Linked DNA regions of Homo sapiens: all the other regions are reported to be linked to region 1. Evidence: microRNA targets listed by miRTarBase, many of them from high-throughput screens and not tested one by one. Region 1 holds a microRNA gene; each other region holds the end of a gene's coding sequence.

The links. The annotated mature microRNA hsa-miR-4262 reads GACAUUCAGACUACCUG and lies in region 1 at 3,147-3,163, shown strand. An mRNA with a match to its seed (bases 2 to 7 or 8) in the 3' UTR can be bound and repressed. Matches are read on the target gene's strand: a 7mer-m8 pairs with bases 2 to 8, a 7mer-A1 pairs with bases 2 to 7 and ends in A, and an 8mer does both.
Region 2: the mRNA of PTGR3 is a reported target of hsa-miR-4262. Seed matches in the 3' UTR shown: 7mer-m8 at 2,161-2,167 and 8mer at 1,819-1,826.
Region 3: the mRNA of NSD2 is a reported target of hsa-miR-4262. Seed matches in the 3' UTR shown: 7mer-m8 at 1,381-1,387.
Region 4: miRTarBase lists DCAF4 as a target of hsa-miR-4262. Seed matches in the 3' UTR shown: 7mer-m8 at 1,033-1,039, 7mer-A1 at 1,557-1,563 and 7mer-m8 at 1,598-1,604.
Region 5: miRTarBase lists ZNF829 as a target of hsa-miR-4262. Seed matches in the 3' UTR shown: 7mer-m8 at 1,128-1,134.
Region 6: miRTarBase lists ZFAND6 as a target of hsa-miR-4262. Seed matches in the 3' UTR shown: 7mer-A1 at 3,582-3,588 and 8mer at 3,235-3,242.
Region 7: the mRNA of WDR72 is a reported target of hsa-miR-4262. Seed matches in the 3' UTR shown: 8mer at 942-949.

What each region holds. Positions count from the first base shown.
Region 1 is chr2:11,835,746-11,840,105 of GRCh38, reverse strand. MIR4262 (microRNA 4262) reads left to right here and starts at 3,120; the gene lies at 3,120-3,173. The region is part of intron 3 of LOC105373430 (a long non-coding RNA gene); the gene reads right to left.
Region 2 is chr18:75,197,704-75,202,063 of GRCh38, forward strand. PTGR3 (prostaglandin reductase 3) reads right to left here. Exons shown (of 2, transcript NM_175907.6): 2 at 1-4,360. The coding sequence ends at 3,713. Among named protein-coding and RNA genes, the nearest start is that of PTGR3, 9.3 kb to the right of the region's middle.
Region 3 is chr4:1,978,271-1,982,630 of GRCh38, reverse strand. It overlaps NSD2 (nuclear receptor binding SET domain protein 2), which reads right to left. Exons shown (of 22, transcript NM_001042424.3): 22 at 439-3,993. The coding sequence ends at 3,722. Among named protein-coding and RNA genes, the nearest start is that of MIR943, 6.0 kb to the left of the region's middle.
Region 4 is chr14:72,957,913-72,962,272 of GRCh38, forward strand. It overlaps DCAF4 (DDB1 and CUL4 associated factor 4), which reads left to right. Exons shown (of 14, transcript NM_015604.4): 14 at 700-1,791. The coding sequence ends at 893. It also overlaps the pseudogene LOC100420966. Among named protein-coding and RNA genes, the nearest start is that of TRC-GCA8-1, 2.9 kb to the right of the region's middle.
Region 5 is chr19:36,887,662-36,892,021 of GRCh38, forward strand. ZNF829 (zinc finger protein 829) reads right to left here. Exons shown (of 6, transcript NM_001037232.4): 6 at 463-4,360. The coding sequence ends at 3,831. It also overlaps a transcript of ZNF345 not described here. Among named protein-coding and RNA genes, the nearest start is that of ZNF829, 26 kb to the right of the region's middle. RefSeq lists an enhancer at 3,766-4,360.
Region 6 is chr15:80,136,935-80,141,294 of GRCh38, reverse strand. ZFAND6 (zinc finger AN1-type containing 6) reads right to left here. Exons shown (of 7, transcript NM_019006.4): 7 at 2,902-3,815. The coding sequence ends at 3,667. Among named protein-coding and RNA genes, the nearest start is that of FAH, 14 kb to the left of the region's middle.
Region 7 is chr15:53,514,169-53,518,528 of GRCh38, forward strand. It overlaps WDR72 (WD repeat domain 72), which reads right to left. Exons shown (of 20, transcript NM_182758.4): 20 at 1-3,586. The coding sequence ends at 3,531. LOC105370826 (a long non-coding RNA gene) reads left to right here. Exons shown (of 7, transcript XR_007064645.1): 5 at 603-735. Among named protein-coding and RNA genes, the nearest start is that of WDR72, 240 kb to the right of the region's middle.

The DNA of each region.
Region 1 (4,360 bases):
TCCCTCCAGCCCACAAAGGTCTTTATCCTTTTGTAGATAAAATCCACCATCACGCTGCTGTGGTTGAAGCCACAGTCTGAGTCTTTCAAATCCACAATGACAATCAGAGTTTATGATGTAAACACTCCAAGTTGACCCCACTTGGAGGGTGTAGATAGAGACTCAGATTCAATTGGTTTGGGTTGGGACTTGGGCATTAGTAATTGTTTAAATTGGCCCCCTCCCCCAGTTAATTTTAGCCTACAACCCAGATTAAGAATCCCTGCTGATGAGGTGCAGAAGGTGCTCTGTTCTTAATCTCTCTCACCAGCATCAGCTGCAGCCGTCATTCTGATGGGACACACAAGCCGCTGCATCCCGTGCAGAACAAGTGAGGCTGGAGATCCTGCAAATCAAGGCTCAGCTCCCCACCCTGAAAATCTCCTTTTCATGCAAAACTCACAAGGGGTATTCTCAAAGATTTCCAGCCAAAATGTGCCATAAATATCAATTACTCCTCCTCCATTCCTCAATTGCAATGCATATAAACATAACAGAATTAACAGCCATTGATGAACGTATCCACTGCAGCATGATTCAGTTAATTGGTATATCCTTCACCTCATATACTTACCCTTTTTTTGTGATGAGAACATTTAAAATCTACTCTCAGCTGGGCATGGTGGCTCACGCCTGTAATCCCAGCACTCTAGGAGGCCAAGGCAGGCGGATCACCTGAAGTTGGGAGTTCCAGACCAGCCTGGTGAACATAGTGAAACCCTGTCTCTACAAAAACAAATACAAAAATTAGCCACACGTGGTGGCACACATCTGTAATCCCAGCTACTCAGTGGGCTGAGGCATGAGAATTGCTTGAACCTGGTAGGCAGAGGTTGCCGTGAACTGAGATGACGCCACTGCGCTCCAGCCTGGGTGACAGAGTAAGACTGCATCTCGATAAATAAATAAATAAATAAAATCTACTCCCTTAGCAGTTTTAAAGAATATAATACATTATCACGGTCCTCAAAGTATATAAATATCAAAGCATCACGTTTTACACCATAAATATATTCATTTTTCCTTTATTAAAAATATTTAAAAATTGTTTAAAGAATACACAGGCACATAGGAAGCAAATGTCAGTTTCACTCATCTGGACAAGTTGTCAACAACCCCCATTCACTCTGGAAAAATACAAGAAGAGCTGGTATGGAGATCACACCTGGGTCTGAGGCCAAATGAGGCACTGCACCTACCTGTCTATAGGTATGAAGACAGCCAGGTACCCACTCAGCCAGGTGTGGGGAGGGGAGAGATCAGAAGCCTGCTGGGTGCACATGGGCACTTAGAGCTGTGCTTTGGGGACCCCAGAGAGGCCGAGGCATGCCCTCCAGCCTCCCAGCACAGGGGAGACCTCAGCATGTGTCAGGGGTCACCTCACCACGCAGACTGGCCCTCCCTGTTCCTGTGGCTTCATGTGTCCTTGAAAGGGCAGCCAAGGCTGGCTGACGGGGCAGGGAATGGACAAGGAGCAGCCTGGAAGGGCTGGCACCATTCTGAAACTCTGCAGAGTGGACCTTCACCAGCGGCTTCTCCAGCAGGAGCTGCCTCTCCCCTGTCACCTTGTTTGGAACAATGAGGCATGTCCAGACTGAACACGTTGCCTCACTGGCCACTCGCTGGCTGTTCCTCAGGGTCAACCACTCAACCTGCCTCAGGTGGACCTCTGGACTTCCATGCAGGCCTCAGCCGGCTCTGTGTTTCTGGGCTGCTGGACTCTGTAATGGGCCCTCCATGCACTCATGTGTCTGTGCTAGAGACTTGGAAGTGATCCCAGCTTCCTCCCCGGCTCTCCTCGGCTCCCCTCCTTCATGCCTGTGTCACTGCCTCAGTTTGGACCTTCAGTTTCTCCATTCTGAGCCACCTGGAGTCTTCAGGTAAGGTTCCTTGCTCCTGCCCAGCCCCTCCCATCTGTCACCACCACCACCTGGGTGATCCCTCTAAAGCATCACCCAACTCTGCCATTCCCCACTCCTCCTCCCTTTAGTGGCCACCAAGTGCATGGGAAATGAGGCCAGGCCACCTGGCTCATGATGTGGCCCTGCTCACCCCTTAACAGCATCCCTGCTGCACTTCAGAGCCAGTCCTCCAGCCACACTGCTGCCCGTCCATTGCCCTGTTTTCCCTGTTCCCTGGGTGGAAACGTCTTCCAGACTTTGAGGAAGGAGCAAGAGACAAATCATAACCAAATTCCTCCCTGACTGTTGGGCCAAGTAAGATGGAGACTAAACTGCTTGGCTCTGTCCCTTGGAGTTCATTGAAGACATTGAGTGGGTACCGTGGAGTGGGAGCCAAAGGTCAGCTTGGAGTGGGTGCAAGAGGGAAGGAAAGGGAGGAAGGGGAAAAGCAAGGACAGTCAGCTTCTGGTGTCCATGGTGGATTGGTTTCGGGACCCTTGTGGATCTCAAAATTCATGGATGTCAAGCCCCTGATATAAAATGGCATAGTATCTTTATGCAACCTATGCACATCTTCTGTGTACTTTAAATAATCCCTAGATTGCTTATAATGCCTAATACAATGTAAATGCCATGTTAATAGTTGCTATACTCTATGGGTTAGGAAATCATGATAAGAAAAAAAGTCTGGATGTGTTCAGTAAAGACAGATTTTTTCCCAAATATCTTTGACCCATGCTTGGTTGAATCCACAGATATCAAACCCATGGATTGGAAGGGCAGACTATATAGTCATCTCTTCCAAGAATTTGGCCATAAAGGGAAGCAGAGAAATGAGTGGTCATGGAGAGGAATATGAGTTGGGGCTGGTTTTACGCTGATGGGACACATCACAGCAGATCTGTATGATGATGGGAATGATTCTGTAGACAGTGGGAATTTGAGATATAGGCATTGGAGTGGCTAATGACAGGTGCATTGTCCTGGAGTTGGGGAAAAGAGGCAGGACAAGGTGCTAGACTAAAAGTGGGCATTGGAGGCACTTGCACAGTGAGCAGTAGGGCTCCTCGGCTGCTTCCCTGGTCCAACTGTGGCATGTGACAGGCCGTTCACCACAAGCTCCACCTCCCGCCATGAGGCCAGGCAGCCTCTCTGCAGATACCAAACCACCCCAGAGAGGAAAGCTGCAGGTGCTGATGTTGGGGGGACATTCAGACTACCTGCAGCAGAGCCCATGGCTGACAGGACCTGCACACCCCACAAAGAGACACCCACACCCCCCATGTTCACAACACAGACACCCACACACACACCCATATACACCCCACAGACACAGACCCACACTCATATACCCACACCTACCCACAGATAGACGCAGACACCTGCCATCCTGCACAGGCACCTCCCAACCCCACAACGTTTTAGTGCATCTCTCTTACATATAAACAGATATAAAGTATTACCAGACACTTGAGGGAAGTCGCCCATAGAAACCAAAGCAAACGAGCAAAATTTGAGGAGTTACTATTGAGATAATTCAGGAAACAGAAGAAAATTTCACAGACACTATAACTAATGTCTTCAGAAGGGTAGACTGAAGGGTAGACTCACAAAATTAGAGATGGATACCACAAAAAAAAATTAAGAACAATCCATTTGGGATCTTGGAGACAGGGCCTCCAATTAAGGAGAAAAGCAGAGAAGACTCCAGATTGATGGCTTGTTGGGGGTCAGAGCAGCCCTGTTAGACTGGAATGTGCGGGGAGAGCACTTTAGTGGGAGGGTTTCCAGGAGGAAAAAAGGAGACATGTATTTAACAATGTGGAAAATATTACAGAGATTTTTTTCCCATAACATTTTTTGGGGGCTGAGGAAGGAGTTAGTAATAATTTGAAAAAATAATGAGCCATAAAAAATGGAGCATATTAACTCCAGGGAAGGCCAAAAGTTATAGAAATAAAAAAAAACATGATATTTTTATACTATAAGGCTTAGGGATGGGAAAAAGCACATATGAAAGACAAAAACTTCATCTGGCATCGTAAGTCAATAAGGAATGCCTAAATTTCATTAATCGAAATATTGTAGTATGTTCATTTTACTTAAAAATATCAAAGTAAATTCCAGAATAAACAGGGGCAAGGGTTGAAAATGAGAATCAGGAGGGGTGTGGGGGAGGGGGGCAAGTAGGACCAGCCATGTGGATTTTGTGTGTCTTCTGGTAAAAATCTTCAACTTTTAAAACTATGTGAATATGTTATTTTGGTTTCAAAAAAAACAGTAGACTGAAAACTATAAAAAGCCAACAAAATAAAGGGAGAAAGAAAGAAAGGAAGGGCAAAAAGAGAGGCGGGGGGAAAGAGGTGGAAAAGGGGAAAGAGAAATTGACCAGCAGGGACAACAGACACAGCTCTTGCCTG
Region 2 (4,360 bases), not on the chromosome of region 1:
ACTTTCAACAAAAAAGCCCATGAAGTTTACATAGATAATTCTTGTGTTTAACCAAGTAATAAAATATTTAATAAAATGAAAGTATACAGAAGAAAATTATGAATTCATCAAATCAGGCCGTTTTGCATCCAGATTGTATTCAGAAAACTTGTTTAACACCTAGGAAATTACTGTCCAAAGTTGATAGTGCTTGGTCTTTTTTATCAGTTTTTATTCTGAAAGCTGTGCATTACTAATCTACTTTTATGTAAATCTGAAATACAGTATTTATCCCATATGTCCACATGGTAAAGTAATCAAGAAAGATATTTTCAGTGCTTAGCACCCCCACCCCAATTTAAAGGAAACTCTGACTGTAGTAAATTCATGCTAATTGAGAACTCTGGGGAAGGGGTTAAAACATTACCCAGGTACAAGTCGGGTGGCCATTATAAACGTTACCCAAATAAAAGCCAGAAACAGGAAGCCAAAAACCAGGTCCCTAAGGCAGGCATGTGTCTTAAATGATATCATTTGTCAAGCTTCCAGCATCTTGTGGTGGTGAACACAAAAAGAAGGTCTGCGTTGTACTGAGGACATTACATCCTCATTAGCTGGAATGTTCCTCAAGTACATAATGCAGGATTTTCATTTTAATAAGAAGCAGCTACTTGTCACTGCACTTTCATTAGATAAACACAGAATGTAATACTAATGACCATTTACAGAGGCTCTATCCTACTCCTGAGGAACTTCATCCAGATGAAATCATATAATGACAAGTTATAGAATATATCATGCAAAACTTCCTTCATTTCTTTGCAAACTATTCCCTGAATTTTTTTTTTTTTAATGCTGAGGTCAGTTAACAGCAGTAGTCATCATCAAAGGAACCCCTAAATGACACTGCTGGTATTTTCTGCCTGCAAAACAGGCTTGAAGGAATAGCATTTGGCTCTTTAGAAGTCATAACCAAATGGTAACAGATCACTGGGACTCCTTGGTTTCTCAAAGAGGCAAGCTCCTTCCACCCTGCCCGGCTGGTGACCTTAAGCCCGACATGCAGAGAAGTCCACGCTGAGAAATAATTTACTCACTGGGATTGTTCCACCCTGGCCCCTTCTCTAAAAAGACTGACAATTGCCCTGAATTATGGATGTACTTTTTGTGATATGTATTACAGTTCAGAAGAAAGGTGTTGAGACCATCGTACCGTTTCACCTCCCATTAGAGGCTGGTCTTGAACAATAATCCCAGAAGATGAAACTGATGCTGAACTATGACCCTCAATTTACAAATCATTTTTCAAAAGAATAAAAAAAAGTTTAAACATATTTTTGGCATTATCTGAATGGGCGGAATCTTTCATGCTTGTTTTCTAAGAATAAGTGAAAACAGCATGCAGTGCACTTTCTTAGTTTGGGGAAAGAGAGAACATGAGGTTTTCAGATTATATTTTATTTTAATCCTGGGCGTTTGAATTTTATTTTTACATAGCTGCATTTAGTATATTCCCTCAAAACACAATAAATTTCTATTCTGTAGCTTAAGGGATCCATCAGTTAAAATGTTGGTCTTTCATCTTTATTACCCTCCCATTAAAATGAAACAAACCGGGACTCACTTCAGTTTCGAAGAAGCAATTTAGTTGGTAATGTCCTTACTCCCCAAGTCTTTACAAAGGGAGAAAGTACATTACTGCTTAGATTTCACACATCTATCTGCATAAGAAGCAACTAAGCCTTTTGGACATAGACTATGTTAAATTTAATAATATTCTTTGATTAGATTATTTTATTACAACATTTTTTCCATTACCAGTCATTTCCTGTGCACAGTTACATTCATAAAACCTGCTCCCCCCTCCTTTGTTTGTTTGTGAATGTAAAAGTGAGGCAAAGTCTCTTTCCGTGTGGCTGTGGCTGTTAGGTCTGAAAGGGATGGATGAATAACTAAGCACCACACTGGACGGGTTTTTCCTAGTCCCCTGCACCAGTAACCCTTTGCTATAATGAGGACACAAAGAGCCTCGCATCAGGCCGCTACCCTTCTTCATAACTCAAAAGCGTCACAGTGGCAATAGCCTCTAGTGCTATTTGTCTTTAGTGCAGTTGTGACACTTCGGCATGATCCATAATTTGGCAGCTATTTACCGTGACATTTCCCTTCAGTGCAGCCATAACATTCAGTGAAGCCATTATTTGGTTCCATTTACCATATAAATTGTATTGTTGTGCATGCATGCTAGCAGCTACATTAGGTACCTGAAAATGAGTAAATCTTGTAAAATAGATACTAACAGCTATTCAGCAGTAGGATTTCCTTGCTCCTCAGATGGAAGGAAAGAAAAATTAAATACAGTCCCCAAATTTCCTAGAGCATCTTTAATTGCGTCCATATTTACTGAGCAGGTTAGATACACCGAAACCTAAGACTTTGAAAAATAATCTGGTGGGCTTCACCTTCAATCAGAACGGGCCCATGGGGTTTCAGCGCAACGGTGACAGCGGCAGCAGTCTTCAGGGCACTAAAGGTTAAGAGGGAAGCCGATGAGCCACAGGCGTGACTCAGAAGAGAGGGTGCAGGTTTCGCTGCTTTTCCTGTGTGGTCAGTGGGTCAATGTGGGACATCAGGCTATAGTGCCAAGGAGCATCTCATTCCACCAGAACACGTGGAGAGAAAAATGGGAATGCAGAATGAGTGGCTGCTATTCTGTTTCCAGAATCAGAGGTAACGCATAGCTTCTAGTTCGAACGCCTCTAAGGAGAAGCAAATGTATTCTTCCTTGAGATGACTGAGGTCTCTACGGTGCACAGGGCGATGGGACATACCGTACCTCGAGCAGTGTAGCATGCTGTTACTAAGGCCTTGCCGTGTGCCTAGACAGCGCTTCCCTCCTGGGGCCCGTGTTTTGTGGTGAACCCCCACTGAGAATGGAGCGCACACTTTTCTCTTTCCTGTGCCTATATTAATTTTAAGTCCCCCTAATCTCTGTGGTTTCCCTTTCCAAAACCTACTTTCTGTCTATGTAAGTTTTCAACATTAATTTGCTGCTTCAGAGGAAAGAGAACATTTCCATTTCACATGTGCCTTATCAGGTTGATGGTAGATAAAAGCCATTACGTGCTACTTCTTCAAAACACATCTGTGTTCACGGAATCATTTTTCTAATAACAAAATCAAATTTGGGAGGGAATTCCCCCAAATGTCCATTTAGATAGTTGGTTGGTGATTTATAGAAAAAAAAAGGACCATTTCCTGAGGATATAGATTCTGAAAATATATGGCTGGCTTTTGCTACACTTGTCACTCATGAACTGCTTATGAGCATAAGACCAAATTCTCCCAAAGCAAAGAAGTCGGGAACCACTTTCAAAACTGATTTTAAAATCTGATCAAGCTGAAGACATACTGACTCGATCAGATCTGGCATCAGGAATGAATTTAGTTCCCTGGAACAATAACATCTGGAACGAGACCATCCATGACTAAAGAATTGAATGTAAGCGTTTTCCCTCTTAGCCATGGAGGGAAGTTTTATTAGCACATTTTTTTTTTTCCCCCAAGGGAAGAGGAGGAGGAGGAGGAGAAGGAGAGACCTATTCATTAACACCTTACTTTTGTTTTAAGAAATATTATATCCATTACCAACTAAAAATAAATTGATTTGAGTAATTCTGAGACATAAAGTGCCCATTTTCTTTCTCCCTTGATTTATGTCATTGTTCTGTTTTTACAGCTTACTGTTGACAGAGTGAGGTAATTCAACTACAATTTTTCCAGTGTTTTTTCCCATGTACATATAATTGACAGCACGGAATATGGACTCCAGGCCAGTAAACCTGCCCTCTGGAGACAGATCTCCAAGGTCCACCTCACAAACCAGGTCTCCGCTCACACACATCTCGAGCAAGTGGCTCATGGCTGCTTGATACTTAGAAAGGTAATGGTTCAGGAAGAAGCCCTGTACGCTGGCAGATTTCTTGAGCAGTTTGGCTGGCAATGTTCCTGCTTTCACAGGCGAAAGGCCAGTAGGAGTTTGGTAGCCAGAGATAAACCCTATTACTATCAAGCGCCCTTTCGTAGCCAGGGCGTCTACAGCCAAGTCAAACATGGCTCCCCCAACAGATTCATAGACCACATCGACACCTTCAGGGTACTCCTGCTTAAGGACGGTACCTACGGGTTCAGTTTTATAGTTGATAGGACGATCACAGCCAAGAGATTTCAGAAAAGCAGACTTTTCATCAGAAGAGCAGGTTCCAATTACATGGCACTTTGCCTTCTTTGAAAGCTGCATGGCAAACTGGCCCGTTCCCCCAGCTGCTGCTGTCACCAAAACTTTTTTCCCTTCCGACAGTCCTCCGAGCTCTTTCAGGCT
Region 3 (4,360 bases), not on the chromosome of region 1:
CTGGGGGCTTCCTAGGACACCCTGGCCCACAGGGTGGGGAACAGGTAGGATCAGCCCTCGGGGTACTCCCTTGACTTACTTGGCTGTGGGCCTGGGGACCACCCGGCTCAGCCGACTGCAGGGCTGGGGGACAGCAGTGCTTCCTTCTCTCTAGACCATTTCACCCTTAATGGGAATTTGGGAAGCAAATTATTTCTGAAAGAAGAAGAAAGCATTTTTCCAAAGTCAGTCAGTTATGCCTGCTATTTCCAGTATTTGTTGTTATACTTCCCAAGGTGGCACTGCCTCTCCCCAGCGGGTCAGGTCAAAGGCAAAATGACACAGTCAGGACAGGGAGCCCCACCCATCGGAGGCATCAGTGCCACACCCGATGCTTTGCAATTCAAAGTAACTGGAAAAAAAATCAAACAATCCCATATAAAATAAGTTAAGAAAAAAGCCTTTAAAATGTTTTTAATACAAAAATACTCATACACAATTTTCCAAACACAGCTTTCCATTTTAAATGCTATTTTCCCCCAACTGGCAAGTCTCAACTCTCTATTTCAGTATATCCCTCCCCCCAAAAAGTGAATTTCAAGTTTTTAAGTCTAACTATCAAACCTGGTGACAGCACCCAGTATTCCTAAAAGGAATCTGACCTTACATTGTATGAAGTTTAGACACCAATAGGCACATTTAAGTTTGTATTTAATTTCTGACGGGGCATTTCACACCTCAACAGGGTATGGTGAGGCTGTGACACCCCGTGGACACAGCATTTTACTCTACTGACTAACAAACAGTCATCAACTACACTCATAGGATCAAGATATTTGGCAACTGACAGTCATTTGCATTAACTTGAATTATAAAACAGGTTTAATTCTGGAAAATAAGGTAGTCCTGGAAGATGGGCACTGCACACGCCGGGGTTTAGATGTCAAGACAGACAAACACTGCGAAGGGGACCCAGCCAGCCATGGACGGGTGTCGCCGGAAGAAAGGCCGGCCTGAGGACGGACAGCTGGGTTCTCACTTCAGGTGCCTGAAGAGTTTCCCCCACAGGTGACCACATTTTAAGCTGCCCATTCGGACACATCCCCCTGTGGGCGCACACGGGTGGGTATGGGTTTAGGTGCAGATGCTGGTTTCGGATGCCAAGGAATCCTGAGGGATTGGGGCGGTTTTTGTGTTTTGCTTCACATTAATGATGGAGGATTGAAGCTGATGTTCAGGAAGTCACCACGTCCTCAGAACAAAGCTGGGCAGGGCCGAGAGCCAGCCACACCCACGGTCACAGCTGGGGGCGTGGTCAGCCCCAGTGGCGAGAAACCCTGCAAGCTCAGGGCCGCTACCCCAAAGCCTGGCTCCACTGAGTTATCAACGGGTATTGTAGAGACATTCAAAGTTAGTGTTACTTGCTCATTAGTTTAACAGTTTTTGGAAAGGGGGAGAAACATATTTAAAATGTTTGCATTATTTCCTTCAGAAAAATCATAAAATTTGGAAGTATTATCAAAGCGATTAAAAATCACAAGATTTCACTACTGTCCAACACAAAAATAAGTTAATATCTGCTCCCCAAAGTGCACTGCAAAGCCGATTCTGCTGTTTTGACGTAAGCATTGGTAGTCCCTTACCTGCCGGAAGGGATCTTTTGGGCAAGTGACAGCGGGGCCCTGGGGCCTTCGACTCTAAGGTGTGTGTGGGGACACTGCCCGGCCTGTCCCTAGAACAACCTTCCAAGTTAGGGCATCATAAGGAGCATAAATCTATGAGCCGATCCAGTATTTTCTTAGGACACTTTGGGAGAAGTTAGAGTCTGAACTGGAAAGCACTACTCCCACCCTGTCTTAACCGGCGAGTGCCCCTCAGAGGCCACGGCCGCGCGAGCAAGTCAGTGGCTACACAGCTCGTTTCCCCTGGGTCCTCTGTGTAGTTAACTTTGCTGGGGACCCTGATGGGAGAAGGGACAGCCACCAGCCAGTGAAACTTCCAGTCAGTGCTCAGGGAGGCGTGGGACCCTGCAGGGCCACACACCCCTGAACCCCACGCTTACAGGTCACAAAACCACGGAGTAGCCACTCTCAGGTCCAAAGACACTGCAGTTTTTACCAAGGCATAAAAGATGCCACAGAAAATTTAACAGGAGCCTCAGCAGCAGTTTTCAAGGGGAGTTCTGTAAACTTCTCTGCAAGATGGATGTGTCCCCCTTAGGTTATTTTAAGAAAAGGCCATAAAAAAGCACCTGCTGCTGAATGTTCTCTCCCTCCCTCCCAGACAAGCAGCCCCTCAGGACACGTGGGCAAAGGCACACATGGTGCCCCCTTCTCAGGGTGCTCCAGACTTCCCAGGGTCAAGGATCCCTCAAAAAAAGAACCAAGTCTTAAAACATATGTAGTACTCAGATAGATAGGTCTCACTCTGTAGAACTGGACCTTTTAAAAACTAAAGTGAAATCTCACAGGAGAGTGGGTGTCATACCTGGCCTAGACCAGTGCCCATAACACACGTACGAGGCACGCACACCTGCCAGGCAGGCCTCCACCCCCAGGACCGCACCTCTCAGTAGGTGCCCTGGCAGAGGGCACATGTGATCAGCAGAGACTGCATCTTCCATCACCAGACCCACAGAGTGCTGAGATGGAAGCCACTCTGGGTGGCAGGAGAGCTAGACTCCGTCTCTCTTTAGACCCACGTGCTGGGGTCCCCGGGGCCTGCAGCGCCCTACGGGGCTCCCTAAGTTGTCACTTCCTGTGCTCTAAGCAGACTGCGGTCTCACGCCCTGCAAAGTCACTCCTTTCGCCATGGAGCTCAGGGCCGCATCAGTAAACACACACTTCAGTCGGTGGTGATTTGTGAAATAGGTTTAGCAAAAATATATTGAGAATAAAAATCAGAAACTGGTAAAGAAAAGCCAAATGAAAAAAATATACAAAGTTATCCCCCAAATGTTGATAAGAACCTAGCGAGTTCAGAAGATAGGCCCAGGTGAGAAGTAGGCCCAACCCGGCCAGGCCTCGAAAGTGCTCCGCGTAAACTACACGTTGAAAGTGGACGTGTTATTGGCATTTCATTCAAATCCATGAGGAGAAAAAACTACGGGAGGAAATCTTACAACACCATTGCTGCCACCACCTGCAGGGCCAGCTTCTCACTAGGATGGAAAAGAAGCGTTTCTGAGGAACAATTCACATTAGTACAAAAAAATGATACAGCCATTTCCAAAGAGCAGAGTAATGATCACAATGGCAGTTTCGAGGAATCCAGGGTCAGTCCTCACACGGGCCTCACCCAGCCTCTCCCGAGTGGCGACGGCGCTGAGAGCCAGAAAGGGGGCAACGCGAAGACGAGTTTCTAGCGACCCTTGGGAAAAGCCTACGCTACACATTTCAGAGGAGATTAAAACATTCCATATGCCAATTAACTTTAACCTAAAAAAATAGAGTGGGAGGGAACCTTGACATTCGGAGAAATTCAAGTGTGGCGGTAACGCTGAGGAGTGAGGCTGTTTGTCCAGGAACGCTGAGCTGGGCTCAGACGGTCATCAGTGCAGACGCAGCGGACGCTGCTGAGGATGGCTCAGTGGTGGGGAGGCGCTCCCTCCCGAGGAGGCCTGTACGTCTGTGTCCTGGCGGCTCGAGCTGGGTCCTCCGGGCCAGTTCATGCTCGCCCTCTCCCGCAGGCAGGGCCGGCCGCCCTGCACCGCCCCTGGATCCGGCCAAGCGGCCGCCTGGCGCTATTTGCCCTCTGTGACTCTCCGCCAGCCCCTCCGCCGCCGCCTCTTCCCCTTCGGCTTCCCTGGCTCTGGGGGGGGCTTCTCAGTCTTGGTGCTTCTGACCGATGCCGCCCCTAAGTCATGCTCACAGCAGTAGGACCGCCCGTCCGGGGTGCAGCTGAAGGCTGTCCCGTCCTGGTGCTCCTTACAGAACGAATTGGGGCAGAGGTGGCAAAATGAAGTCGAAGGTTTGCCACACACGTCACAATGATGCCAAGGACATTCCCACTTCCCTGCAACAGAACACAAGATGTGAGCACACAGAAGTGATGGAATCACGACTTCAACATTATCGTGGTTGAAGATGACTTACAACTGTCAGGTCAAATGAACACAAAATAGTGCTGGCTCCAGCGAACAGGACGGGCAGACAAACTGTCTACCACAGCCCGGGCGGGCTCCCTGGCAGGGCCTGTTGACTCCACAGTACCTGCCAGGCCCCTAAGGACCACCTGTTAGCGTCTCTTTATGTTTCGGCAACTGAGAGGAGCTGTGCCGGGTGCAGGAGTGTCCCCCAGCGCGGCGTGGACAGGCAGGGGCTGCTGTGCTGATTTCCATGTGACCTGCCCTCTCCCAAGGGACTGATTTTCAACTTGGGTA
Region 4 (4,360 bases), not on the chromosome of region 1:
AGGAACTGAAGCATTAAACCAGAAAGAGCTGTGGGGAGAGTTGTCAACCTAGCCCATCCCCAGGATGTAATGACTTTGACAGATCTTTTACTATAACATGAAAAGATCAGGCCAGGTGTGGTAGCTATAATTCCAGCACTTAGGGAGCTTGAGGCCAGGAGTTTAAGACCAGCTGGGGCAACACAGCAAGACCCTATCTCAAAAAAAAAAAAAATTAGGCATGGCGGCACACACTTGTAGTCCCAGTTAACTCAGGAGGCTGAGGCAGAAGGATGGCTTGGGCCCAGGAGTTCAAGGCTGCAGTGAGCCCTGATCACACCACTGCACTCCAGCCCGGGCGACAGAGCAAGACCCTGTCCCTAAAAAATGGGGGAAATCAGTTGCATGTCACCTAGACCAGGTGGGCCACACTCGCACTTGAACGTTCCGTGACATCAAGAGCAGCAGAATACCCAGACATTAGCCAGGATGTCTCCGAGCCATTCATGGCATCACACAGCCAACCAGGGCATCTTGTCATTGTTCTAGCACAACAGGGCGACTTGGGTTATCCGTAGAAATACTGTCCGTTAATGAGTTTGTGTTTTGGCTCACATGAAATCACAGCCCTGAGGAATCTTGGGAAGCCATGTCCACATGTAGGTAAGTTTTCCTTTGCATTCTCTCACTAGCCTGCCATGTGTCTCTCCTCTTTCCTAGTGGGCCAGGACTGCTACACGAGAATCTGGAGCCTCCACGATGCCCGCCTACTGAGAACCATACCCTCCCCGTACCCTGCCTCCAAGGCCGACATTCCCAGTGTGGCCTTCTCGTCGCGGCTGGGGGGCTCCCGGGGCGCGCCGGGGCTGCTCATGGCTGTCGGGCAGGACCTTTACTGTTACTCCTACAGCTAATTCTGCAGGGCACAGCCCAGAGCCATGTGGATTTGACTTACGGGAGTAAAGCGTAACTTTTTACTGCATCTAATGAGGGTGTTTTAAGTGACACTCAGTGTACACAGATCCCATCCTCTGGCTGCTAGGAGAGAAGTGCTGAATGTTCCGTGTGGAGATGCTCAGGAAAGTTATTTGAGTTAAATTGCTGGCTGAGAGAGCTTGGAAGTCCTTTTCATAAAAGGTACCTCTTTCCTTTTCTTATTGAATTCTTAGAACTTAGTTAACCCTCCCTGCCTTTTCTTAACAAAAAGGACTTTTCTAAGGACTGAAGATTGGCAAAAACGAAAAGCTTCTTCCTCCAAGAGCCCATTGAAGAAGCCCAGTGATGAGACGGTGAGATGGTTTGAGTCCTCGGTGCCTGGGTAGCAGGAAGAAAGACCTGCATCCTGCATCTGTACTTGGGGAAGCCAGCGGAGAGGACGGGGAGGTTACTTCTCTAAGTTTCTGCAGAAATATTGAAGGCTGGAGTTTGGAATCCTTAAACTTGGCCTTCTCAAACTCAGCAGCAGATCTCCGGGATTCTGCTGTTATTATCCAAAGGCGTTGGAAGGAAAGATGGATCTTCTTACATGCTAGAAGTTTTAAACGGTCCTTAACATGCCTTTGTTCAAGCACCTTCCAGAATGTAAGGTTCAGCAGCTCTGGTTTCTATTACGGTGACTTGAATGTCAGATTCAAGGGCCCGGCGTCAAAGGAAATTGGTTTTGACTTTTTGTAATCTAGGAGCGACAGTTCGTGAGATGTTTATTCAGTGTTAAAGAGCCTGTTTTTCTACCAAACAATAAAACCAAGAGAAGAATCATGGTGTGACATGCACTTCTGTGAATGACTTAGGAGATCATGAGCTTGGGCTGCTGGGACCAGCTTTCATAGCCTTCCTGGAGAGCTTCCCTGGGCCCCTCCAGACCCACTCTGCCCTCATCATCTGTCCATCTCCACCCTGCTCTGTGCATGCCCAAAAGACTCACCTCTGGACTAGGTCAGGGTTCCCTGGCTCCCAGCAGCTAGGTAGGTTCAGCCAGTGGGAAGCAGCAGTAGAACACAGAGGGCAAGAGGAGAGGGAGTGGTTCCCCGGCTCCCTTCTGGTTGGGCTGTGGGTGGCTGTAACCAAAACCCACCACTTCTATTGGAAAGCGCTCAGAGAGAGCCGGGTTCCAGCAACTCTTCATTTGTCCCTTCAGACCTACAGCTGGTCATCACACCTCACTGTTGCTGGCCCAGAATGCCTCACTAGGTAGACTCGCAGTTACCCACTTGAATGTTTCCTGCCAGTACCCTGACTAATACAGCATATTCTATAAAGAACCAAATTTTTTTTTTTTTTTTGAGATGGTGTTTTATACTTGTTGCCCAGGCTGGAGTGCAATGGCGCTCTCACCGCACCCTCCACCTCCTGGGTTCTAGTGATTCTCCTGCCTCAGCCTCCCGAGTAGGTTGGATTATAGGCGCGTGCCACCACGCCTGGCTAATTTTGTATTTTTAGTAGAGATGGGGGTTTCTACATGTTGGTCAGGCTGGCCTCAAACTCCTGACCTCAGGTGATCTGCCCGCCTCAGCCTCCCAAAGTGCTGGGATTATAGGCCTGAGCCACCGCACCTGGCCCGATTCTTAAATATATTTAATCCGTCCGCCCCAGTTATCTAAGGCTCTGACCTCTTCCTTCTCCCACCAGCAAACCCCAGGGCAGTTTGCACTGTGCCCCCTCAGCATTGTGGCTGACAGTCTTCTGTATTCTCTTTCCCACATTCAGGATCATGGTGGCACAGGAAGGGATGGCTGGATAGTAGAATGCATCCTCCACATCTTCAGGAAAGGACAGAGATACCTCAACAGGAGAAGTTGGGCAGAGACAGGCAAGTGCTGCCTCCATTTCCAGCCTCATGATGGTTCCTGGGCCATAGCAAAGCCTGGTTGAGGGGAAGAGGCCCAGGGACTGCATCTTTCCAGCTTTTCTTCACATACACAAGCAGATGGTGGCACAGTACTCCCTGATACTAGCTAATAAGCACCTACTGTATGTCAGGCCCCCCCCACCTTTTTTTTTTTTTGAGACATGGTCTCACTCTGTCGCCCAAGCTGGAGTGCATGAGTTGCAGTAGCACAATTACTACTCACTGCAGTCTTGACCTCCTTGGGCTTGAGCAATCCTCCCACCTCAGTCTTCTGAGCAGTTGGGCCCACAGGTGTGCACCACCACACTCAGTTAATTTTTTATTTTTTGTAGAGATGGCGTCTCCCTATGTTTCCCAGGCTGGTCTTGAACTCCTAGGCTCAAGTGATCCTCTGGCCTCAGCCTCCCAAAGTGCTGGCATTACAGACACGAGCCATTTGTAAGACACTTCTCACCCTCACACTAACCCCACGGCACAGTTTGGGAAACAAGTTTGTTGAGTTAAAGTGGTTTGGCAAGAAGGGCTGAGCTGGGATTAAGATTCCGCTCTTCCCAACTCTGAAGCCCCTGTTCCCCTCACTGCTGTGTCCTGCTCATTTTCCAGGCCCAGGTTAACAACAATGGGAAAGAGTTGAGAGATACTTTTCTAACAGGGTAAACCCTCCTCCCAGCCCAACTCCACCATCCTGGGCCACTCCTCTACTCACATGATCCTTTGTACCATTTGGTCCAATTGATCTTGATCTCATCCATTTTTTCCACATGGGTCAGAGACAAGGGTGAGATTTTTCTCATTTCTCGTGGGAGAAAGGCAAGCTCTGCCAAGCCCAGAATTTCTGGCCCCTCCTGTCCCAGCACAAACCATTCACAGTCTTCCCGCAATTATTCCTGGTGCAGGGTTTTATTTCTAGGAAGCCTTCTGTCCCTCAACCTCACCAGCCCTTGGCTTTTCAGCCCAGAGGCTCAGGACATTTGAGGATTGCGTGTTTGGCTGTGGGCATGGGGAATGCAGTGACTACACCTGGTTGGCATCCCATACCACACCCAGGGGAATGGGGAAGCCAAGAGGTGGACTGGAAGCAGGCTCAGGCCTCTCTCTCCTTGCCCCCAAGGGCATCCTCTCCAGCAGATGGCCACTACAATGCTGATGTCAAACTGGTCAGTGGGTTCAGTGGAAGGTTTGGCTACCGCGGGAACACCCCAGCTCTCCGTCGGAGCACGTCTGTCTTTGGAGAGGTCACCCACTTCCCTCTGTTCTAACAGCATCTCTTCCCTTCATAGCCCTCAACCTGAATTTCTAAGACAGATGTTTAGGTGAACTCTCAATGTTATTTTACATTAAAAAAATTTGTGTCTCCAAGTGTGCCGTTTCTTCCCTGAGACTGGAGGAAGGAGCCAGCTGTACTCTCAGCTTCTCTTACCCTGGAGAGGAGGTGAGACGAGAAGGGCTTCTCAGGCCTATGCCCTTGCACTCGGAGAGGCTTCACTTCTACCCTGCCAGTGGGATAAGAAGGAGCCACACTATTCATCCTCA
Region 5 (4,360 bases), not on the chromosome of region 1:
TGTTTTACAAAAGGAACACACGTAGAGCCCAGACCACTGTTTCCTGACATGCTAGGCTAAAAGTCAAGATTCGAGACTCAGAATCATTTTGGTCCTCTTCAACATTTTACTCCATCTAATGGCACACTCTACTTATTGGGTCTCCTGAACTCTAGAGCCAGTAACAGTGATCCTAAAGTCATTCTCATGATTTTGCCTGAGGTACAATTTAAATTCTTGGATGACTCCAAATCTGCAGAAATATTAATCTAGAAAAAATAATAGTTATGTGTACAGGAAAAACTGTAAATTTTACTACATGTGAAAAAGATTTCTGCTTATTAAAAAATACCAAAGAGGCCAAAAGATTAGGAAAAGTTACTGAAACAACATATGACAAACACTAACCTTAATATATAAAGAAATATATATATTTCTTAAATATGTAAAGAAATTTGTAATCAGTAAAGATGACCAACAACGTGATGGTGAAACAGAAGAGTTTATAGTAACATGAACATGCCTGTTAAACATTTGAATAAATGATCAGTTTCTCATAACATAGAAATAGAAATGAAATTATAAATTGTGCTGTCTTGTTTGATCAAAAGTTTGATAAAACATTTAATAGTATACATATTCCAGGGAAGATGTTTCCTGTTCTATCTCCCAACACATACAGTGTTATTACCACAATATAGTGTCAAACCGTCAATGCAAAAATCTTTAATCTCCTTGCCCTGATGATATCTGTCTCTACAATATCCAGTACTCCCACGTCAATAAAATTTATACACCCATTTTCTGTTCCCACCTACCACACTAAATTCTTGTGATCTTTCTACTCTGCACTCTGAAATCCACAGTAACTTATTAGCATAATGCCCCCACCTTTTAAAAAAGCATTCTTAATTTGCCTTTTATTGTTTCTTAATTATAGGTTTAGGAAGTTACAAGGGCAGTTGTGTTACATACACATATAGTGTAGTGGGGAAAGTGTTGGCTTTTAATGGACTCATTACCTAAATAATGTACCTTGTACTAAATAGGATTTTTTTTGGTTTTTTTTTGAGATGGAGTCTGGCTTTGTTGCTCCCCCGGCTGGAGTGCAATGGCATAATCTCGGCTCACTGCAACCTCCACCTCCCACATTCAAGCAATTTGCTCTGTTGCCCAGGCTGGAGTGCAATGGCACTATCTCAGCTCACTGCAACCTCCGCTTCTCAGGTTCAAGTAATTCTCCTGCCTCAGCCTCCCAAGTAGCTGGGACTACAGTGCCTGCCACCATGCCCAGCCAATTTTTCTATTTTTAGTAGAGACAGGGTTTCGCCATGTCAGCCAGACTGGTCTCAAACTCTTGACATCATGTGATCTGCCCGCCTTGGCCTTGCAAAGTGCTGGGATTACAGGTGTGAGTGCCTGGCTTATTTTTAATTCTGTGTATGTGATGAATCATGTATTGAGTTGCATATGTTGAGCCATCCTTACACCCCAGGAATAAAATCCACTTGACTGTGCTGTTACTATCTTTTTTATGTACTGTTTGATTTGGTTTGCTAGTATTTTGCTGAAGATTTTTGTGTCTATTTTCATCAGGGATATTGGCTTGTAGTTTTTTTGTGTGTTTTATCCTTGCCTGGCTTCAGTATCAGGATGATACTGGCTTTGTAGAATGAGTTAGGGAGGATTCCCTCCTATAATTTTTGGAATAGTTTCAATAGTGCTGTTACTAGTTCTTCCTTGCATGTCTAGTAGAATTCAGCTGTGAATCTGTCTGGTCCTGGGCTTTTTGTTTTTGCAAGATTTTTTTCTATTACTGATTCAATTTCAATACTCAGTAGTCTGTTGAGGATTCCTATTTCTCCCTGGTTCAATCTTGGAAGGTTATGTGTTTCTAGGAATTTATCCACTTCCTCTAGGTTTTCTAATATGTGCATATAGTTTCTGCTGATATTTTATATGTCTGTGTTATCAGTTATAATATCACCTTATCATTTCTGATTGTATTTATTTGAATCTTCTTTTTTTCTTGGTTAATCTAGCTAGTGGTCTGTCAGTTTTATCTTTGCAAAGAACCAACTTTTTCTTTTATTGATCTTTTGCATTCCTTTGTTCTCAGTCTCATTTTTGCCTGCTCTGATATTTGTTATTGCTTTTCTTCTGCCAGCTTTGGGTTGAGTTTGTTTTGTTTTTTCCTAGTTCCTTGAGATGTGACGTTAGGCTATTCATTTGAGATTTTTCTATCTTTTTGGTGTAGGCATTTAATGCTATAAAATCCTCTCTTAGCACTGCTTTTGCTGTATCTCAGATGTTTTCATGTGTTTTGTCTCTATTTTCATTTATTTCAAAAAATTTTAAATTTCCACCTTAGTTTCATCATTGATCCAAAAATCATTCAGGAGCAAGCTGTTTAAATTCCATGTATCTGTTTTGAGAGTTCCTCTTGGTATTGATATCTAGTTTTATTCCACTATGGTCAGAGAAGATGTTAGATATGATTTTGTTTTTTTAAAATTTATTGATACTTGCTTTGTGGTCCAGTATATGACCTATTTTTGAGAATGTTCCATGCACAGAAGAGAAGAGTATATATTCTGTGGTTGTTGGGTAGAATGTTCTTCAGATGTCTGTTGGGTCCATTTGGTGTAGAGTCCAATTTAAGTCCAGAGTTTCTTTGTTGATTTCTGTCCCAGTGATCTGTCTAGTGCTGTCAATGGAGTGGTGAAGTCCCCTGCTATTGTTGTATTGCTGTCTATCTCTTTTCTTAGGTCTAGTAGTATCTGTGTTATGGATCTGGGTGTTGCAGTGTTGGGTGCATACATATTTAGGATTGTTTTATCTTCTTGTTGAATTTATCCTTTATCATTATAAATGACCTTCTTTGTCCTTTTTAATTTTTGTTGGTATAAAGTCTGTTTTGGCCATCACGGTGGCTCACGTCTGTAATCCCAGCACTTTGGGAGGCTGAGGCGGGCAGATCACTTGAAGTCAGGAGTTCAAGACCAGCCTGGCCAACATGGTGAAACCCCGTCGCTACTAAAAATACAAAAAAAAAAAAAAAAAAAATTAGCCGGGCATGGTGGCGCATGCCTGTAATCCCAACTACTTGAGAGGCTGAGGCACAAGAATCGCTTGAACTCAGGAGCTGGAGGTTGCAGTGAGCTGAGATCACACCACTGCACTCCAGCCTGGGCAACAGAGCGAGACTCTGTCTCAAAATAAAATAAAATAAAATAAATTTGACTAACAACTTATGTATAAAAGGAAATTACAAATATATTAGACAAAATCATTCTAACAGGGTATTATGGGTTGAACTGTATCCCCTAAAAAGATATGCTGAAGTCCTAACCCCTGGTACCGGTAAATGTGACCTTACTTGGAAACAGGGTCTTGGCAGATATAATCAAGTTAAGATGAGGTCACCAGGTAACCCCAATCTAACCTGACTGGTGTCCAAATAAAAGACATACACAGAGATACACAGCGAGAATGCAATGTGAAGATGGAGGCAGAGATTGGAATGGTGTATGTAAAAGCCATGGAATGCCAAGGACTGCCAGCTGTTAACAGAGGTTAGGAAAAAGGCATAGAACAGATCCTCAGAGTCCTCAGAAGGAACCAAAACGATCAGCACCCTTGAGTTTAGATTTCCAGGCTCTAAACTATGAGAGAATAAATTTCTCTTGTTTTAAGCCACCAAGGTTTTGGTACTTGGTACTTTGTTATCGTATCGTTTAAAAACGAATACATAGGAGAACCTTTGATAATATGTATCCTAATTTGTTCTCCTTACCTGTTTTAAAAAAATTATTATAAAGGTTAACAAAATGGTCTTACTTTACTGTCATTCAACCAGTATGAATTCCCTCATGGCGAATGAGGTCAGAGCGACTACCAAAAGCCTTTCCACATTCCTTACAGTCATAGGGTTTCTCACCAGTGTGAATTCTCTGATGTCGAGTAAGATTTGAGCCTTTATTAAAGGCCTTCCCACATTCATTACATTCATATGGTTTTTCATCTGTATGGATTCTCTGATGTTGAATAAGTTCTGAGCTCTGAATAAAGGCCTTTCTACATTCTTCACATTCATAGAGCTTCTCACCAGCATGAATTCTGTGATGGTTAGTAAGTGTTGAGGCACTATTAAAGGCCTTCCCACACTGCTTACATTCATAAGGTTTCTCACCAGTATGCATTCTCTGATGCTGAATAAGCCTTGAGTGTTGAGTAAAGGCTTTCCCACATTCTTTACATTCATAAGGTTTCTCACCAGTATGAATTCTCAGATGTAGAAAAAGTTGTGAACTTTTAGTAAAGGCTTTTCCACATACTTTACATTCATAGGGTTTCTCACCAGTGTGAATTCTCTGATGAT
Region 6 (4,360 bases), not on the chromosome of region 1:
CGTCTCGGGGGAGGGGGGGGAACCTATTACATGCGAATGTATTTTAAAGTGTTTATAGGTGAGCATGTTGCATATTTTGAGACTAGTTTTGCTTACTATACTGCACTTCTTCCTGTATTTCTAAAGCTTACTATACTGGAAGACTTTTTTGCATAATATGCTTCTATTTTGTTGTGTCACTATGGATCAGCAGTTTTGGTTACAGTGTATTATTCCAGTGTATGAATATATCACATTATATTCATCCACTCTTCTTCACTGGGGATTTGAAGACTTGTTTCTGGGCTTTTGCTTCTGTAAACAGCACTATAAAACTTCGTGTAGTGGTCCCCCATTTGTCTTTTTTTTTTTTCTGAGATGGAATCTCACTCTATTGCCCAGGCTAGAGTGCAGTGGTGCGATCTTGGCTCACTGCAATCTCCACCTCTTGGGTTCACGAGATTCTCCTGCCTCAGCCTCCCCAGTAGCTGGGATTACAGGCACCTGCCACCGTGCCTGGCTAATTTTTGTATTTTTAGTAGAAATGGGGTTTCACCGTTTTGGCCATGCTGGTCTCGAACTCCTGACCTCATGATCCATCCACCTTGGCCTCCCAAAGTGCTGGGATTACAGGCTTGAGCCACCGCTCCTGGCTGCGGTCCCCCATTTATCTATGTGTAAGTTTTTCCTAGGTATGCACTTGGGAGTGCAATTTCTGGACTATTGGGTATGTAAAAGTTCCACTTTAAAAGACAGTATCAAACTTTCTCAAGGATTGAACCACTGCACTAACACCAGCAATGCAAGAACACACAGAAATTTGGCAACACTATATACTGACAGATTAATTTTTTGTTGCTTGAATGGGTAGTCTTCATTTGCAGTGGAACTTCTCCCACCTTTGTCTTTTCACATTCTTTGAAGATACTTTAATGTGTTTGAGAATAAAATATCCTTTTAATAGATAAATTCATTAATAATACATTTATAGTATGCTTTGTGTCTTATTTTTTTTATTTTTATTTTTTGAGATGGAGTCTTGCTCTGTCACCCAGGCTGGAGTGCAGTGGTGCGATCTTAGCTCACTGCAACCTCTGCCTCCGGATTCAAGTGATTTTCCTGCCTCAGCCTCCCTAGTAGTAGGGATTACAGGCATGTGCCACTGCGCCTGGCTAATTTTTGTATTTCTTAGTAGAGACGAGGTTTCACCATGTTGGCCAGGTCTTGTGATCTGCCCGCCTCGGCCTCCAAGTGATGGGATTACCGACGTTAGCCACTGTGCCTGGCCAAGAAGTCTCTCTATCCTAAGACCTAACAGGCAGCCATCTTTCTTCTGAGAGTTTTCAAATTTTGTTTTAAGTCCTTTTTTCCTATGGCATAACATACGGGTTTTTTCCTTTTTCATACAGAAAACCAATTCTTCTAGCTCTAATTATCGAAGTCTCCTTTCCTGAATGCAATGTGCCACCTCTCTCTTACACCAAAGTTCAGTCCGTGCAGAGTTCTCTGGGCAATCTATTCAATTCAGGTATCTGTCTGTCCCTATCAGCTAATAACATGCTATTTTAACTAACAAGGCTTCACAGTGAGTCCTGACATTTAGGACAAGTCCCTGTCTCCCTGCTCTCTTCTGAAATGTTCTAGCCTTTTGCTCTTTTTAACTTTTACTTTTACAATCAACTAAACAAGCTCCATGAAAAAAAATCAAGTGGAATTTTGATTGGGATTACCTTGAATCTATGCCTACTGAGGGACAGATGACATTTTTTGATACTGTCTTCCTATCCACTAACATCTATTTACTGAATTCCTATTATCCCTTAATGTTTTAGAATTCTTTCTTGAGGAGGCCATCCACATATATTGTCAATTTCCTAGGTAACCAAGATTCTGGTATTATTGTCAAATGGTGTTTCCTGGTTTTCTAGGTAACTGGTGTAAAGAAATGCAACTGTCTTCTAAAAACGAATGTTGTATCTAGCTACCTAACTAAACCCTATTATTTCTAGTAATGATTTTTCTATAAAAACAATGTGCAAATAATGAGTGCTACCTCTTTTCTTATCATTTTTCTGTCTTGTCTTGCTCCACTGATTATAATCTCCAACACAATTTTGAATAGTAAGCAGTAATAGTGGGCAGTCATCTTTGTTTCTGACTTTAAAAGGAAGTAAGTTTCCTCTTTTTAGCTGATGCTTGGTTTTGTTTGTTTGGCTGTTGATTTCACATAGAACTATCAGCTTAAGGAAATTCCTTTCTAGTCTTAATTTGTCAAGTTTAATTTTTCTTATCACGAATGGCTGTTAAATTCTATTACTCTACCTGAATCTATTAAGACAGTCATAACGGTTTATTCTCTTTATAATCTGTTAATGTGATCAATTTACAGATTTTGATAATTAAACCATCCTTTATTTAAATAGAACATGCAAGTAAGTAAATAATTTTAAACTGAGAAATTTATATTGTAAAATTATTGCCTTCATCTGTTTTATATGACATTTCATGTTTAAAAACGTTTGGCTACCAGACACATTTGAAAACCACAGGACAAATGATCTTTCAAGGGTCTTTCTACTCCGCAATTCTACAATTGCCCTGCAGTTTGAATTATACTCTTAAAATTTCTCCAATCCTACAAGAAAAAGCTTCTATTAGATGTTAATTGAGTGTGACAGTGTAGAAAAGGGAATCAGACAAGGACTAAAAAATACATTTAAGTAACAGAGAGGAGTGCTTGCCTCTGAAGATATGCTCAGGTCTTCAACTCAGAGGAATACAAAATTACAATTCATGATCATAAGCTTAGTCACAAATAGATGCAAGACAAATAATGGTAGTTCTCTTACAAAATTAGGAAAGTAGAAAACTAAAAGACCAAAAAATAAAATTAACTACCAGAAAGAATAAGAGAAAAAGTAATACAAGGGAGCATTCTGGTTTTCCTTTTTATTTAATCAAAGACTGGTGAATAAACATAAATACAGCACAATTACTTCAGATCATTCTTCATATTGTATACACACAAACCCATGAACATAATCTGAAAGAAACCTGTAGACAGCAATGAAATGCATACAGCTTTTTCTTCCCTCGCTCAAAAAAAAGTTTAAACACACAAACTTACAATCTCATCAGCACACACTCTCTTGTGACAAATGATTCAGACATAAATAGTGGGTGCAAAGAAACTATATGCTAACATATGAATAACCTTTGTTAATGAAAAAACAGAAGCAGCCATAATGATTAAGATACATTCAGTTACTGATAACTAGTTGTGCCCTAAAGGGCATTATCAAAAGAGAAATCGTGCTGCAGAGAAAAGCGATATATACATACACAATGAGAAAATAAACTGCAAGATTAATGCATGCATGTTTAATACTGGAAAAATCACAGCCCTCCAAAATTTCTGCACGTTTGTTATAAAAGCCCTCTGCACTCAACTAAAATTAAAATGATCTTAAAAGGATAATACTTGTAAAGTTTAAGTCTCCTCAGCCACAGAAATTGCAATGGAAATAAATGTTCAGAGTCATTTTCAAAACAAAACCAAAACAAAAATCTATTCTTCCGATGACATGCAAGATACACTGCTCTACATTCCCAATGACTAGGAAAAAAAAAACCTCAAGTCAATTTTTAGTTTGCAGATGCTCAAGAATTTTGTATTCCAGCAGGAGTTCAAATCTTTTGGATCTTTTCACCAACAACTACTGGATTTTCTTTTCTGATTTTCTCAGCAGCATCGGCTTTGTAATTGTAAGAGCAATTGTGTACATCTGAGTAACGGTGTACACCACAGTAAACATTTCCACACCGGCATTCAAACCCTGGAAATGGAGTAATACACATACATGAGTTGAAGGATGAAATATTAAGGTCTTTGGCATAATTAATACTGAACAGCACAATATATTTAGGGCAGCAATGTAAACTAAAGAATCATTCTAAATACACTGTCTCACAAACTACATTCTTATTCACTACCTGAGAGCTTCATTTCTTATTCCTATCTACAAACGCAGGTTTGCCCTAGAGAAAGTCCTCTGAGCTTGTTTCTTCACCTGTGATATGGCAACAATTACTTCTTAACAAAAACACAGTTGCTAGGTTGAAAATGTAAAACATTTTTCAAATCCAAACACTACGATGTGAGAATAAGCCTACTGTCAGAAGGCAGTCTTGGCATTTATTTAAGAAAGATCAAATAATACCTCTGAAAGAACTGTTAACAAAGAACACAGCTTCGATATTTGCTTTTCTCTGCTAACCTCCCATGGAGATGTGAACTGTACTGCAGTTGAGAGGTGAAGAGCACGGGATCTAGAGCCTGCCTGCCTCAGTGTCAATCTACTTACTAATGAAGGCAAATTAG
Region 7 (4,360 bases), not on the chromosome of region 1:
GTTTACAAAGCAATGACTTTCTTAGGAAATTAAACACAACTTTTGGCACTTTACATATAAGACAACATTTTGTGGAGAATAAAGGAGTCTATAACACCGCTTTTATATAACTGAGCAATCAAAATGTATGAATATAAAATTTAAAAAATTGAATGAGTCCACTCTGTGAAAATAAGGCTTTAAAATCAGTTGGAATTAATGTAACCTGAACTTTCATTTTAAATACATGGCATAAAATTTAATTTTAAAATACTCAATTATTATAATGTGCCCTCTAAGGATGGAAGAGAAATAGTATCTTTTCTAAAGTGTTCATTATAATAATTATGAAAGGATTTTAAAAATACAGAACACTGGAAAAAATGTATGAGAAAAGAAATAAAAGTCACCAAATGCTATCATCTAAAGATAGAATATTAATATTTAACAAACTGTATTCTACCATTTTTCTAATACCATCATGTTCAAAGCAGCCTTAATTTAGTTTCTAAAATAGTAACAGAATGTTTGATACCTGGGGCTACTTTTTAACTGTGTGTTTCTAACATTATACATTTTTCCTTATATTTGAAGTGTTTAATAGTGCTCACATTGCTTTCTAGCACCTCTGGATGAGCCCTGTGAGAAAGCTCTCCAACACAGGGGAGGGAATGAGGCTCTGACAAGCACAGCAAGCACACACGGCCTGGACACGCTGCCGAGGAGCCTCTGCTTTTAACCCTCCAGGCTTTCCAGGTACTTTTTCCTGCAATATACAATGGAGCCAATGTGAAACTCAACAGCAAGTCAAAGAATCAAGGCTTGCAAATGAAAATATGATATTCCTTTGGGGGATATGCCATATATATATATATATACACACATATATATGTGTATATATATGTGTGTATATATATACACACATATATATGTATGTATACACACACACACACACACACAAATACATTCATAAATATCACCAAGATGATTACCAAAAAAGAAACACAAGACAAAATTTTTAAATAAATTTTTTATTACAATGACAGGAAGACTCCGGATACAAACACATTTGCTAATATAATCACTCCACTGGTTACCTAGGCCTAGACGTACAAAAGGACACCCATATCTCATCAGGAGAAAGACAATTTTGAGTTTCTGGGTGTAGTACCAAGTGGTTATGATCACCACGTACGTGGTCTATCCAGTTAACTGTGTGGCAATTTGCTATTTCAAGTCCTCTCATAACAGAAATTACTGAAATATGTGGAACACCAGTCAATATAAAGAATTCATTTTTAAACAGACTAGTGAATTTGTGTCATAAACACACTTGCGTATGGATATTAGGAGAGCATTGCTTGAATATCTCTAAAACTATTTTTAGGAATTAAAAGCTTTCATAGTTAATGGTATGATATTGGCCTTCAGAATTCATATTGATAAAAGCAAACCTTAGTCATTTAACAGGAATGTTTAAATTTTAGAGATTCTAACATGCGATGCCGAAAAATCCTAACATTTCCACTTAGTAATGTCAGGGTTGTGCCAGTTCTAATTTCCCATAGCTAGTAACATCAGAAAATATTTATCAGAGATTCAATATTGGTTTCATTAGAACTGATAAATGCTAAGTATGGCAACTATTAAAACCTATTGTTATTCTTGTTTCTAAAAGGGAATAATAGGATGTAGCTATAAAAATAATGAAGCTTATTTTTCATAAACATATCATAACCTGAGCGTCCAAATAGATTTTAACAATTAAAAATGCCTCATTTGAGAGGACATACACTTATTTGATATTGCCATCCTTCAAAATGCTTTTGGGAGTCCTTATAATGTCCTTGACAACTGGTATACAACAAGCAAGAAAATATAATCCATCGCCTAACTTGCTACCTTCCTTTATTTTGAAACTTGTTTGAAGTGGCTTTTGACTGTTTCTAAAGGAGGGGGAATATATTTATCAATCAGTTTTCAAAGGATAATAATTTTCCATGATTATTCATATTAATGCTATGTTAGTTTCTAAACTTCAACTCAAATGTAATTTCAAGCAGTAAAATCATATTTTAGGAAACAAAGAATGCACACTTTAATCTACTTTAAGGGAGTCACACTCATTTGACATCTTTATCCTGGTATGTTTATTCAGATCATCATTAATTATAAGTTCCTTAAGGGTGCAGCCCACGTCATTTCAATTACACAGTTCTCTTTTCTAATTTCCCCATCTCCTGTCTACTGCATCCCAGCATAAGACCTGAGGCTGGTCCCATGCTCAAAAATGTTTCTTTAATTGAAGTGACTTGAACTTCTCTGTTAGATACATACATAGATATAGCTATATATCATATATTTAATGCTTTATATCCCTTTTTCAATTATATAGTTCTCTTTTCTAATTTCCCCCTCTCCTGTCCACTGCATCCCACCATAGGACCTGAGGCTGCTCCTATGCTCAGAGATATGTTTCTTCAATTGAAGTGACTTGGACTTCCCTATTAGATACATAGATAGATAGATATAGCTATATATCACATATTTAATACTTTATATCCTTTTTTCTATGGATTAGGCAATATTTATATACATAAGATATGTAGATTAATAATTTTGATGATTTTCTGTAAATCGAGGAACTGTACAATATAAATCATAGTAAATAGATCACCAAAGGCTTTAATAGAAGAGCACTTTATGTCTATTCCTATTTATGCTGTTTGATATATTTCAGTTTTAGAATTCCTGCTAGTCAAGCTTCTTTCTGGGAAAAGACCTACAAGAGTTTATACTTAATAAGGATCAATTGTGATATGCTGTAAGTTGATTCCCCTTCCCTAGTTCACATCTATATGGCCAACAAGATCAACCTTGAGCTAAAGACATTAGCCTCAATGTCATTAGAAGTTCAAATTAACTCAACAGTACAAGGTTGGTCACTGTTATACTTTGTATCTCTTATTTGGGCTAATTGATAACTAAATGGAACTGGGTATTTGTTGACAACATTTCATGCTTAGGGATGAGATTTACTGCAGTAATTGATCCGAATTAAAGCATATCCACTAAAACAAAATATCCTAACCAGACAAATCAAAGTTGGTAAAATTTTAGATTAAATACCTTGAAGCAGTATTAAATTTGTAAGTAAGTATTGTGTACTACATTGGTTTTAACATTGTTTATTATATAATTCAGGGACTAAAAGGATAGGAGAAAATTTAAAGCAGTATTAAATTTGTGTCTGTGGACTGGCATTCCCTGTTGGAAATATTAACAGAAAAAGTAAGAAACAGGAATAGAGAATGATCTAGGCAATATTTTTCTAAAATTAGATGAATATGAATATTTTCAATCAGTATGTATTGCATTGTAATCAGCATGTATTAAAATCACTTTAATACATGTTGGCTAAAGTATTAGCAAATCCACTACAGCCTAATAACTTGACCAATAACAACAATGCTTTTATACAGTAATAAACAAATGGCATCTTTTGGATTTCTTAATTTGTCCAAATTCAGCTCCTACTGATGAGATTCCATTTAAGACACCTTGCAGGGGCAGACCTTTGCTATCCATGAATGATGCCTTGGCTCACCTAGGAAAAAAGCAGATATCTTGGGTTATATGGTGAAATCTAAAAAGAGAAAAAAGAGAAAGACCAAGAGGAGGGGAGGGAGAGAGGAAATGAAGAATAGATACAGAAAGGAAGAAGGGAGAGAATGAGGAAAAAAAGAAAGAAAGGAAGAAAGGTATTGCTTATAATTTCTACATGTCTTTTCCATCCTAAAATAAGACAAGTTAATATAATAAAAATATACTTGTCTTATAAAGTAGGTAAATACACTTTAATTGCACACATTATTAATAGCTTGGGGATTTTTTTTTAACTGCCAAGGAAGATGGAAGTTTTCTATAAGAAAAATTTAGTTTGAAATTAGTAAATTTCCATAAATTTCAAACAGCTTAATTGTTCTTAGAAAAATCCACAACTGCAGTTTTAGGGTCAAAATTTATTAGTTGAAATACTGTTTGAGTTAGAGAATCAAACAAGTATTTATTTCTCAGATTACTTGGATGATTGCCTTTGTAGGCTAAAAAAAGCCACTCATTTAAAATCAAATTGACTACCAAACTAATTGGAACATTGTTCCTTAATAACTATTTTAAAACACATTTATATTAATGACATGTCTATGAATAGTAACTTTCACTCCTACTGGCAAAAACTATGGTTTAGTTAAACCAGTACTGTATACTAACTGTGTGTGTGTGTGTATTAATGTATAATTTTGCATTCTTTAAAAAATATGTTGATGCTTGAATTTTGCTTTTGGGTAAATTTTAAGAATGTCATATTGTTAAAAACAAC